Linked DNA regions of Homo sapiens: region 2 is linked to region 1. The links come from fine-mapping of genetic effects on gene expression. A gene starts in region 1. The other region holds a variant in brackets. All regions are shown on one strand. Distances are between the middles of the regions. Region 1 holds the start of JADE1 (jade family PHD finger 1). Region 2 overlaps SCLT1 (sodium channel and clathrin linker 1).

What was found. PIP is the estimated chance that this variant, and not a neighbour inherited with it, causes the effect.
Region 2: its variant is the best candidate, but not a certain one, in a credible set for the expression of JADE1 in whole blood (TOPMed, PIP 0.54).

Annotation. Positions count from the first base shown.
Region 1 is chr4:128,807,461-128,812,842 of GRCh38, reverse strand. JADE1 (jade family PHD finger 1) reads right to left here and starts at 3,143. Exons shown (of 11, transcript NM_199320.4): 1 at 2,966-3,143. RefSeq lists silencers at 331-900, 1,081-1,180, 1,301-1,580, 2,211-2,330, 2,841-3,320 and an enhancer at 2,631-2,740.
Region 2 is chr4:128,938,477-128,943,858 of GRCh38, reverse strand. SCLT1 (sodium channel and clathrin linker 1) reads left to right here. Exons shown (of 21, transcript NM_144643.4): 17 at 671-863. Among named protein-coding and RNA genes, the nearest start is that of JADE1, 130 kb to the right of the region's middle. The variant A/G (reference allele first, on the strand shown) is at 2,939.

The sequences.
Region 1 (5,382 bases):
TTCCCTCTTGGCCGGGGCAAATAGAGGGCGACAGCCCCTCGCCCCTGCCGAAGTAAGGCAGGGCGCCAGCCCTCTCGTTACTAGAAGGCAAGCTAAAGCTCCTTTTAAACGGTCTCCGGATGACGACGCATTCCTAACGGGTTTCGAAGGCATGTTTAAATCGCCCGCTTTTTTGTTTGCTCTCAGCATTCACCGGCGCCGGGACTGCGGCCGCCCCCACCCGCTTGGGGTGGGAAACCTGGGGCCAGCGGAGCCTGGCGCGGGAGGAATCCTGGGGCGAGGGGAGACCCGGGACGCGCCAAGCCGGGGTTGAGGACTCGAGAATAAGGAGCTCTAGTGGGAGGGTGGCGGAGTGAGAGGGGACGTGAGAAGGCTAAGGATCCCAGCAAGGGGGGCACCCCGGGGTTGTGGGGGAGCTCGGCCGCCGCCCCGCAGCGGCGAACGCTCCGCGCGGCTCCCGCCGCCCGCCGGGGAATGCGCAGGGCCGCGGTTCCGCGCGGCGCCGACCCCTCCCTCTCTCCCAATCCTCCTCCTCCTCCTCCTCCCGAGGCGACAGAAACAACAGCGCGGGAGGAGGGGAAAGTAACTCCCGGCACCTCCGCCGGAATTAGCCCCGGTGCAGTGATGACACCTTCTCGTGGCGCAACCAAGCCCCGCTCCCTCCGCAGCGGCGTCCCCGCCGCCGCCGCCCTCTCCATTTGAAAGTGGCCACCCCCCGCCGCGGCAGCTCCTCCCGCCCCGCCGCCGCCAGCTGCACCAATCCGCTCGGCCCCAGTTGCAAATCAAACGCTCCCTCGCGTCCAGAAGCCACTTGCGCCGCTGGAAACGGCCGCGCCGTCCCCCTCCCCGAGTCCCTCCGGGGCGGCACCTTCGGGCTGGGGCGGGCGCGCCGGCGAGAAACGGTTTTAAGATGGGAGCGGCAGCGGCGGCGAGGAGCTCCGAGCGGGCTCGGCTCCCGCTCCCGCTCCCGCCCCCAGACAGTTCTGGAAACTGTGTATCACCTCTGTCACAGGAAGCCATCCGGCGAGGAAGGCGGCGCGGAACCAACAAACAAACGCCTGCGGCCGCCCGCCGGAACCGGCGCGGGGACCGCGTCGGGCTTCGGGCCGTTCCCGGGGCGGGGGCGCAGCGGCCACCCCCGCGCCGCGGGCTTTGTGCGGGGCGGGCGCGGCGGGCCGGGCGTCCCCGCCCCCGCAACCCCCCACCCCGGCCCGGGCGGCGCAGCTGGGACCGTTAGGTGACGCTCCGGCCGCAGCGGAGAAGCAGCGCCTCGGCCGCCGCCCGCCCCCATTTCCACACTGGGCCGCCTCTCCTCAAACACCAGAGGCGGGCTACAAAAGTTGGCCCCGGGGCCACCCAGCACCTGCCCACGTGCCGCGGAGGCTCGCTCCCGAGTCTCCCCCGGTTCCCTCCCCCGCCGCCCTCGGCCGCCAGGTCACCTATTACCGGTGGGAGGGGAGAGAGGCTGCTATTTAAACGCCCGCGGAAGTTGAGGCACCCCCACTGGCGGGTGCCGTGCACCTGCCTCCCGCCGCCGCGCTCCGCCACTTTGAGCAGCAGCCGCGTCCTCAGCCCCGCCTCCTGCCCGAAGGCGGGCGGGGGGGAGCGGGAAGGAGGTGGAAGGGATCGAATTTCTCCAGCAAATGGGACCGTTCCGACAGGATTCGGTTCCCCGGTCAACATTCCACATTCCATCCCTCTCCCGCATTTGCAAGCCAATGCCGAGCAACCCGGAAAGCCTGCTGGCTACCGAACAACAGCCCCCAACTCGCAAACACAGACTCACAGGCACAAGACACGTGCACTGAAGGGCTCTGCAACTTGCAGTCCCGGGGTACACACTACACGTTCATTTAAGGAAGCAAGGAGACCAAGAGACCCCACCCCCACAATTTGCAGATGGTGCCAAAGGTTGCAATTTGCAATCCCCTTTAAGTTCACGATTAATCGGTACTTTGCTCTACCAACGCCAACTCCTACCCCATTTCATCGATTAAGGGGTTTTACACTTTACAAGCAGTCGCGCTGTAAGTAAAAGATCTGATCACTGGAAGCCCAGTTCGGAAGAATCTAATTGCCAAACTGTCCCTCCACCCCCACCCCCACCCCCCTCTCACTGCCCTTGAATTGATGCAATGAATATTTTGGACATGTGGTGACGCGGTGACAAGAGCCAGGGCTGCGGCCACCACACACAGATGTACCTACGCACACCTATGTTTGGACAAATACAGTCCCACCACACACACGGTCTCACACACTCTGGATTCATATATGTACGCGAACCTGCGTTCTGCCATTGCCATCTGTCTACCAAGTTGCTACTATGCTTTCCACTTTCATGCAGCCTAATGCACTTTGGCTTTCTAAAAAAAAAAAAAAAAAAAAAAAACCTATAAACTAAAGCCAACTTAAACTGGGCTTCTGCTCCTAAACGCGTTTAATTGATGATTCACCTGAAAACCGCATGTTCTTCGCAAATCCAAAAGAAGAAATAGCTCTAAGTCTTCAGCCCCCCAAATTTGAAAAAAAAAATCATAATAAAACTTACTGATCCAACATAGATCAATTCTCAGGATCCAAAAATCATCCTCTCCTCCTCCTCCGGCCCCCGCCCCGGCAATGCCCAAGTTACTGGTGGGATAGTAACGCTGCGCTCAGCGGCTGCCTCCCTCCCTCCTCGCTACAGATCGAGAACCCAATCTTTTGGCGCCATATTAATGACGTATTATATTATTTCCACTAGGCAGCGACCTTCGGCATTAAATTACTCCCGAGAACTCCCGAGCAAAGCAACAAAACCATCAAATATGGCTGAGCCTCTCGGCTCGTCCTGCAGCCGCCGCCGCCGCCGCCGCCGTCGCCGCCGCGGGACCGGGACGCGCACACGGACCCACACGCGGACACGCGCGGACACACGCGCGGCGCGCCCACCCCGCGCGCCCCCCGCGGCCCGCGCGCGTACCTGCTGCGGAGGGGTTCGGCCGAGGCGCTGGGCTGGGCGCCGCTCGCTCGCTCGGAGCTGCATGAGTTCGGGCCGCGGCGGGCGGGGAGCCGGGCGGGCCCCTGCTCTCGCCGGCGCGCACACACCGGGCACTCGCGCACGGAGGCACTCTCGGTCTGGCGTTTGGCTTGTTATGGAGGAAGGACTATGTGAATCAAACTCATTTCTGGGTCACTGCTGCCACAGGGGGGAGCACTTTAATCCCTTGCCAAAACGAGAGGGTGGGGACGGGAGGGCGGAGGGAGCATGCGGGGAGCCCGCGGCGCTGGGGCTCGGTCCCTCGTTAACTCTTCGCAGCCCTAGCCGCAGCCGGCTCAGCCTGCGCCAGTGGGGGCTCGCAAAGAACGGCACTGTTCAGCTCTTAGTCTCTTTCCTTACTTCACCCACCTTGTGAGCCTAGAAATTCTTGAGGTGTCTCCAAGCAAGTGGGTTTTTAAATTAGCCCCTTCAAACTGCTGTCCCAGTTTCAACTCTTGTCTGACATCTAGAAATGGATTCTTTCAGAATAGTTTAAAATTACGTAGATTAAAATATGGCTATTAAGATGTGTCATTTGGGTGAAAGGTTTTATTTTTAGGCTGAGTGGCAAAATAGTTGTTTGTAGTAACAGTTTTAGGGAGTTGCACATTAGGATGACATTTTTAAATAGAGAGAATCCAATTCTGAATAACATCTTTACCTAAATTTGTATGGAAGTGATCATTGCAAATGAGCATTAATTCATTAGAAGATATTATTTATAAATTGACACCACTTTATGTTACACATTACTACAGAATTGGACATCTTCTCCCAAATATGAGGAGTGAGCCTAATGCTAAAACTAGAATTGCAGACTAGTATCAGATCAGTCATCGGAGATTCATTTGGGGGTATTTATGTGTAAAAAGGAGTGGTTACTGATTTTCTGCAGAAGACAAGCTTGCTTTTTCATATAGAGGGCAACATACTTCTTTCATGGATTCATCTAGGGAAATAGAGGGGTATATGACATTCAACTTCAATAAGAAAAAAGTACGGATTAAAAACTCCCATTCAGGCCGGGCGCGGTGGCTCACGCCTGTAATCCCAGCACTTTGGGAGGCCTAGGTGGGCGGATCACCTGAGGTCGGGAGTTCAAGACCAGCCTGACCAACATGGATAAACCCTGTCTCTACTAAAAAATACAAAATTAGCCGGGCATGGTGGTACATGCCTGTAACCCCAGCTACTGGGGAGGCTGAGGCAGGAGAATCGCTTGAACCCGGGAGGTGGAGGTTGTGATGAGCCGATAATGCGCCATTGTGGTCCAGCCTGGGCAATAAGAGCGAAACTCCGTCTCAAATAAATAAATAAATAAATAGGAACAGTGATCACTAATTACAAAATTGAATATCGAACCCAAAAGGCATATGTGTCCACCGGAAGAATCTTTCTGAATATATCAGGTTTGATTTCATGTAATCCCACACCAGCCCAACTACCCACATCCAGACCCACATCCAGAACGTTATAATCTGATAAATGCGACAAAACAAAACTAATTGAGCCTTTCAGTTATTTTTCAGAAAACAAAGTAAGCCAGTGGAAATCCTAAGTACTGTATATGTCCTCTCCTGTTTCGCTAATGAAGAGTAGAAAGACTCCCTGCCAGTCCTATTCATGTGTTCACTTAATCCTGTTCAAAGCGATCACACATGTAAAGCACTGTGTTAACTATCATTATTACTATTCTTAGTATTGCACTTGTTATTGTTATTTTTACTGGTTCACCTCGCACATACTCTCTGTAGAAGTTAAAGTACACAGGCTTTGTAGCCAGACATGGCTGGATCTGGCTCTATCAGTTAGCAGTTTGTGTGCCTGTGGGATAAAAGAACTTTATCTGAGCCTCAGTTTCTTCCCTGGTAATAAAATTAAGTTAACAGCTGGCCCCTAACCTGAAGGGTTGTTAAGAGGAATCAGGCAACCTCATAACAGTTCAGGAGTAGAGGCCCTGGCAGTAGGAGGTTGTCCACTCCCTCGGCCATCACTCAACTCCTTCTTGGTTTTCTCTCCATCAAAAATTGCAACTTTTCTAAATTCCAAACAGCCTTACTTCACGCATTCATGTTAAGAAAATTTTTGTCGACCGGGCGCGGTGGCTCATGCCTGTAATCCCAGCACTTTGGGAGGCAGAGGCGGGCGGATCACGAGGTCAGGAGATCCAGACCATCCTGGCTAACACGGTGAAACCCCGTCTCTACTAAAAATACAAAAAATTAGCCGGGTGTGGTGGCGGGCGCCTGTAGTCCCAGCTGCTGGGGAGGCTGAGGCAGGAGAATGGCGTGAACCCGGCAGGAGGAGCTTGCAGTGTGCCGAGATCACGCCACTGCACTGTAGCCTGGGCGACAGAGCGA
Region 2 (5,382 bases), 130 kb before region 1:
GTTCACAGTGCTTATCTGTTATTGAAAAGATGGAAGTTTTAAAAGATAGGAATAAAAATTAGCAGTATATTGATTTGAAGCAACATTAATGTATAGAGGTTGTCTCACCCAGTGATCAGTGGTCCATTGTTGAGACAGTTCAGGAAATATAATCCGTTTAACCTATGATAAAACAAGAAGTTTACAGAACTAGAAGTTTATAAAAAGTATTTCTAAGACATATAATGGAAAAATATAAAAGTAGATTTTATAATTTAGTAATATAGTCAGCTATTGTGTTAGTCCATGGAGTTTATTGATTAAGTAAAGGAGTTTTGGTTATTATCCGCTTCATCCTTTTTTTGTTGCTTCAGTTCATTTCCTTGAAGTTCTCCATACACAGTGATTCTTAATGTTAGTACAAATTTGAAAGAAGTCTCACATTGATTTTCTAGATAAGTGATAACAGTTCAATTCATCTGTTCTTAGTTAAAATTTGAATATATTTAAGTTGAATGTATTTGCCTGGTATAACATAACATTTTGAAACCACATAGTTTCAGTCTAAAGTGGAAAGAAATGGCTCAGAATAAAGCAAACAAAAGTCCATGTGATAAAATGTAGACAGACTTTTATCTTCTACTATAGATCATTAAGTTTAAGGATTCTTTTCATTTCGTTTTTTAATCAGCTCCTCAGAAGAAATATCACGTTACCAAGAAATGATTCAGAAACTTCAAAATGTATTGGAGTCTGAGAGAGAGAACTGTGGGCTTGTCAGTGAACAAAGGCTAAAACTTCAGCAAGAAAATAAACAGTTACGGAAAGAGACTGAGAGTTTAAGGAAGATTGCCCTGGAGGCTCAAAAAAAAGCCAAAGTAAAGGTATTTTCAAGACTAGAGTTAAATGTGTACTTATGAAAATCAAAGTATAGAGAATATTTAGAGAGACCTAGCAAAACATCTTTAAGGCCCCCTTTTTTTTTGCCTTCTCATCAGATAGCACTAAATCATAATTCAGAGTGTTAACCAATCATTTCTGTGTTGTAGAACTTGGCAGGCATACTTGAAAATGATTGCCTTTGCTACACACAAAAAAATTCTTTTCCAACCACGAAATATACTGATATTCCTGCCAAAGCAATTTAAGCAGCACTAGCAAAACCATGGATTAGATAACTTTACAGACTGCCTTCCTCTCTTCTCTCTCTGTAGTAGCCTTTGAAAAGTTGAACTTCTCTAAAACTAACTGTATAGAGGATGTTAAAGCAGTAGGCTCTGAGAACCATTCATAACTAGTCTGAAAATTCCATGGCAGGAAGAAGGCAAGAGGCAAAAATGTCATCTAAAACAAATTCCCTTTCTTTTCTCTCTTATTTCCTTCTCCTCTGATGCTTATATGGTTTGGTAATAGGAAGGTGATCCTCTTTTTAAGGGACTTTCAAGTAACACAATCTTCATCAACATCTTGCTTACCTTTCCCCATGTCATGAGACTTTTGTAAAAAGTGGCACTAACTTTTTATGATAAATATCTACATCTTCCAATTTCATAGTAAGAATATGAAGAGGTCATGTCACTGTTTTATTTTGGTTTTTATTGCTGCAAGGACTCCTAAGAAGTCATATTCCAACCTAATTCATGTCAACATAAATTTATTGAATGCCTCCTATTGCAGGTATGAAATGCCCTAGTTATTTGTAAAACCTTGAACTCCGAAATGAAAAAGAGAGTCTTATTTAAAAAGAAGTTTGTACTTTGACCTTTAGACTATGGGAGTTCTTTGAAGAACAAGGAGAGGACCCATACCGCCAGATATCAAGACTTGATAAAAAGCTAAAATAATTTAGACAATGTGTTATCAACATAAGAATAATCAACTTGATCAATGGCAAAAAATTGAGTCTAGAAACAAACTCATTTATCATAATCACTTGATTTATAACAAAGGCACCATTGCAGTTCAGTGGGGGGAAAACTGGCTTCACAAATGGTGCTAGATCAGTCAGATCCATATTTTAAAAATAAAACTTAACTCCTATATCACAGCATATATGCAAATTAGTTGGAGCTGCTTTGTAGACCTAAATGTGAAATGTGAAATGATAGTTTCTAGGAGAAAATCTTCTTGCCTTTGGGTTTGAAATATTTCTTAAACAGAGCACAAAAAAACACTAACCATGGTGAAAAATCCAAGCTGAACTGGATTTCACTAAAATTAAGATATTTTTAGTCACCAAAAGACACCATTAAGAAAGGGAAAAGTGGGAGAAAGTATTTGTAGTGCATATAACCAAAAAGAGAACTCATATCCAAAATATAAAAACTTTTACCAATTAATAAGAAAAATATTAATAAGGAAAAAACAGCTAATAGCTAATAAAGAAAAAAATAGATACTCCATTTCCAGAAAAGGCCAAAAGACTTAAGTAGGCACTTCATAAAATAGCATATAGGCAAATATGTTCAACTTCATTATTTTTTAGGAGAATTTAAATTAAAACTACAAGATAACACTACACACCACCAGAATGGCTAAAATTAAAAAGACTAAAAATATCAAGTATTTTTAAGAATATAAAGCAATTAGAACTTTGATAGATACTGCTGGGAATGTAGCATTATCTTTTAAAGCCAGACATACATACATCCTGATACGGTTTGGCTGTCTTCCTACCCAAATCTCATCTTGAATTGTAGTTGCATAATCCCAGTGTGTCATGGGAGGGACCCAGTGGGAGGTAATTGAATCATGGGGGCAGGTTTTCCCATGCTTTTATCTAAAGAGCTTTTAAAAATATAAGAGAAAACTATTTGTAACCGAATAAAAAATCATGTGAGAGTTGAACAGAATCTGCAATCTAAGAAAAAAAAACAGTAGGCAGTAAGCAGTTTAAACTCACCATTAATTAATTGCTAAGTATCTCTAAGTGAACGTGCAGCTAAAAGTATTAAATGGT[A/G]CGTATTTACTTTAGAGTCTAAAATTCAGTCATAAGAAAGTAATTAAAATATTTCATAAATAAGTTCATTGCAGCATTATTTATAATAAATTAGAAACAACCTAAATATCTAGAAGTAAATATGTTACATCTATATGTATAGTAAAATTATGGAAAATACAAAACATTAAAAAAAATATATAAAGTCCCTCTACTCCCAAAACTCAGATAATACTTCTAACTTCTACATAATTGCTTTTATTTATGAATTTTAAAATTGTTACTATAGTGTATAAAGGATTACTACCTGTGTGTACACATATGTATTTTTGACATATAGTGTATATGTTTTTAATAAGATACTGTATTGTCATTAAAAACTATATTTCCAAATAATTTATAATGCATTTATATTGATACACCCTATGATTGAAAAATTTATGTGTATACACACATACATGTAGTAATCCTTTACATACTGTAATAACAATTTTAGAATTCATAAATAAAAACAATTATGTAGAAGTTAGAAGGGATTATCTGAGTTTTGGGAATAGAGGGACCTTATAGTTGTCTTTTTAATGCTTTGTATCTTCCATCATTTTATAATATATATTTGTTTTGTTTTCTTTTTTTTAATCATGGGTGGGGATGGAATCAATGAATTTTCCCTATCTAGTACTCCAGTTGATCCGTCTTTAACATTTCACTTTAATGCTTTGTTATTTTCCATAATTTTACAATATGTATTTGTTTTGCTTTCTTTTTTTTATAATGAGTGGGGATGGAATCAATGAATTTTTCCTATCTAGTACTCCACTAGATCCGTCTTTAACATTTCAGGATAGTAACTGATGTTATGGACAACAAAAGAGTAATAGAAAGTTTATCTACCCCACATATCTCACCAAATCTGTATCTAGCTTAAGAGAATAGCCATTGATAAAGAGCCGAACGTCTTAACTAACTAGCTATAATTCTATTTTATGGAGGAAGAAGGCTGTAAGATAAATTGCTTTGTAACTGATTCTTTCTTTGACAAAATAGGAACCTGGTGCACCTACACCTTGCTGTTTTTCTCCCTCTTGCAAAAGAGTATGATCTTCAGTAGATAAACTGAAAGAAGCCAAAAAGATAAAGACAGTGAGATATTGGGAGGTCAGTTGGCTACAAACCTTAACAATTTATCATATGAAGTTTTCATTTGATCTTAATGCCACTGCATTGATTTCAGCCCTCGCTTTCTCCTTTTCTAACCACTCCTTTTGCCAGGGCTCTCCATTTCTTCATGGTCTAAATTCCGCCTCATTACCATCTAAAATTAAGAAATGGAGTCGTTTCCAGCAATTCAGTTATCTACTTGTGTGGATATTTCTCTGTAAAGGAAGGAAGAAGCAAGAAAGAAGAGAGACCATAAAACCCCTTTTCCCATCCAACATTCTGAATTTTATCATTAATAGAATTTTTGTAATCGGAGATCAGTTGTTGTGGCCCTTAGCCTGTCAGCATTACCACAGACCTGTCCAATTTAGGTAGTAATTCGAATTGTATATACTAAAGGCTATGGTGCTTGTTCGAGACTGAATTTTGACATCAAAAAGCCACCATTCAATCTGCAAATATGTTTTGACAACCGTACTGTGTTCCAAAAGTTGAAATAGGTAAGCAGAAAGAGATTATTTCAGGCAAAAGAAACAGCATGTGAAAAGAACCAAAGAATAAAAAGGCATTATAGTGGAAATAAAAGAAAGGCAAGGGAATAGTGTGGCACAACACAAGCTTGTAAAAGTAAGCAGGGACCAGGTTATCATAAAGGGTCTTAAAGCAAAGCTTGTGAAACGATAAATAGATTTTCCAAGTGAAAATGGGGAGTTAACTAGGCAGCCAAATTCTAAAACTGTACAGATGCATAGATCAGTTTTGTGTGCATATGTGGTTTGTTGTTGTTGTTGTTTTTGTTGTTTGTTTGAGAAGCTCTGTTGCCCAGGCTAGAGTGCAATGGCGTGATCTTGGCTCACTGCCACTGCCACCTCCCAGGTTCAAGCGATTCTTCTGCCTCACCCTCCTGAGTAGCTGGGATTACAGGCACCCACCACCTCGCCTGGCTAATTTTTGTGTTTTTAGTAGAGATGGAGTTTCACCATGTTGGCCAGGCTGGTTTCGAACTCCTGACCTCAAGTAATCTGCCTGCCTCAGCTTCCCAAAATGCTGGGATTACAGGCATAAGCCACCACACCTGGCCCATAGATCAGTTTTTAACATGTGTTCATAAGAAAGAACTCACAGGGGCTGTACTTTTTGTTTTCCACCTGAGATGTTAGACCAACATGACTTCTCCAGAGGAGATGAAGATTAAGGAAGGGAAGGAGAAAGGGCAGGCAATCTAAATTTGCAGAATCTAATAATTCAAAAATTATTAAGATAGCAGCAGGGGTCAAGTGGCCTCAGGAGGCTTGCACAGCAGT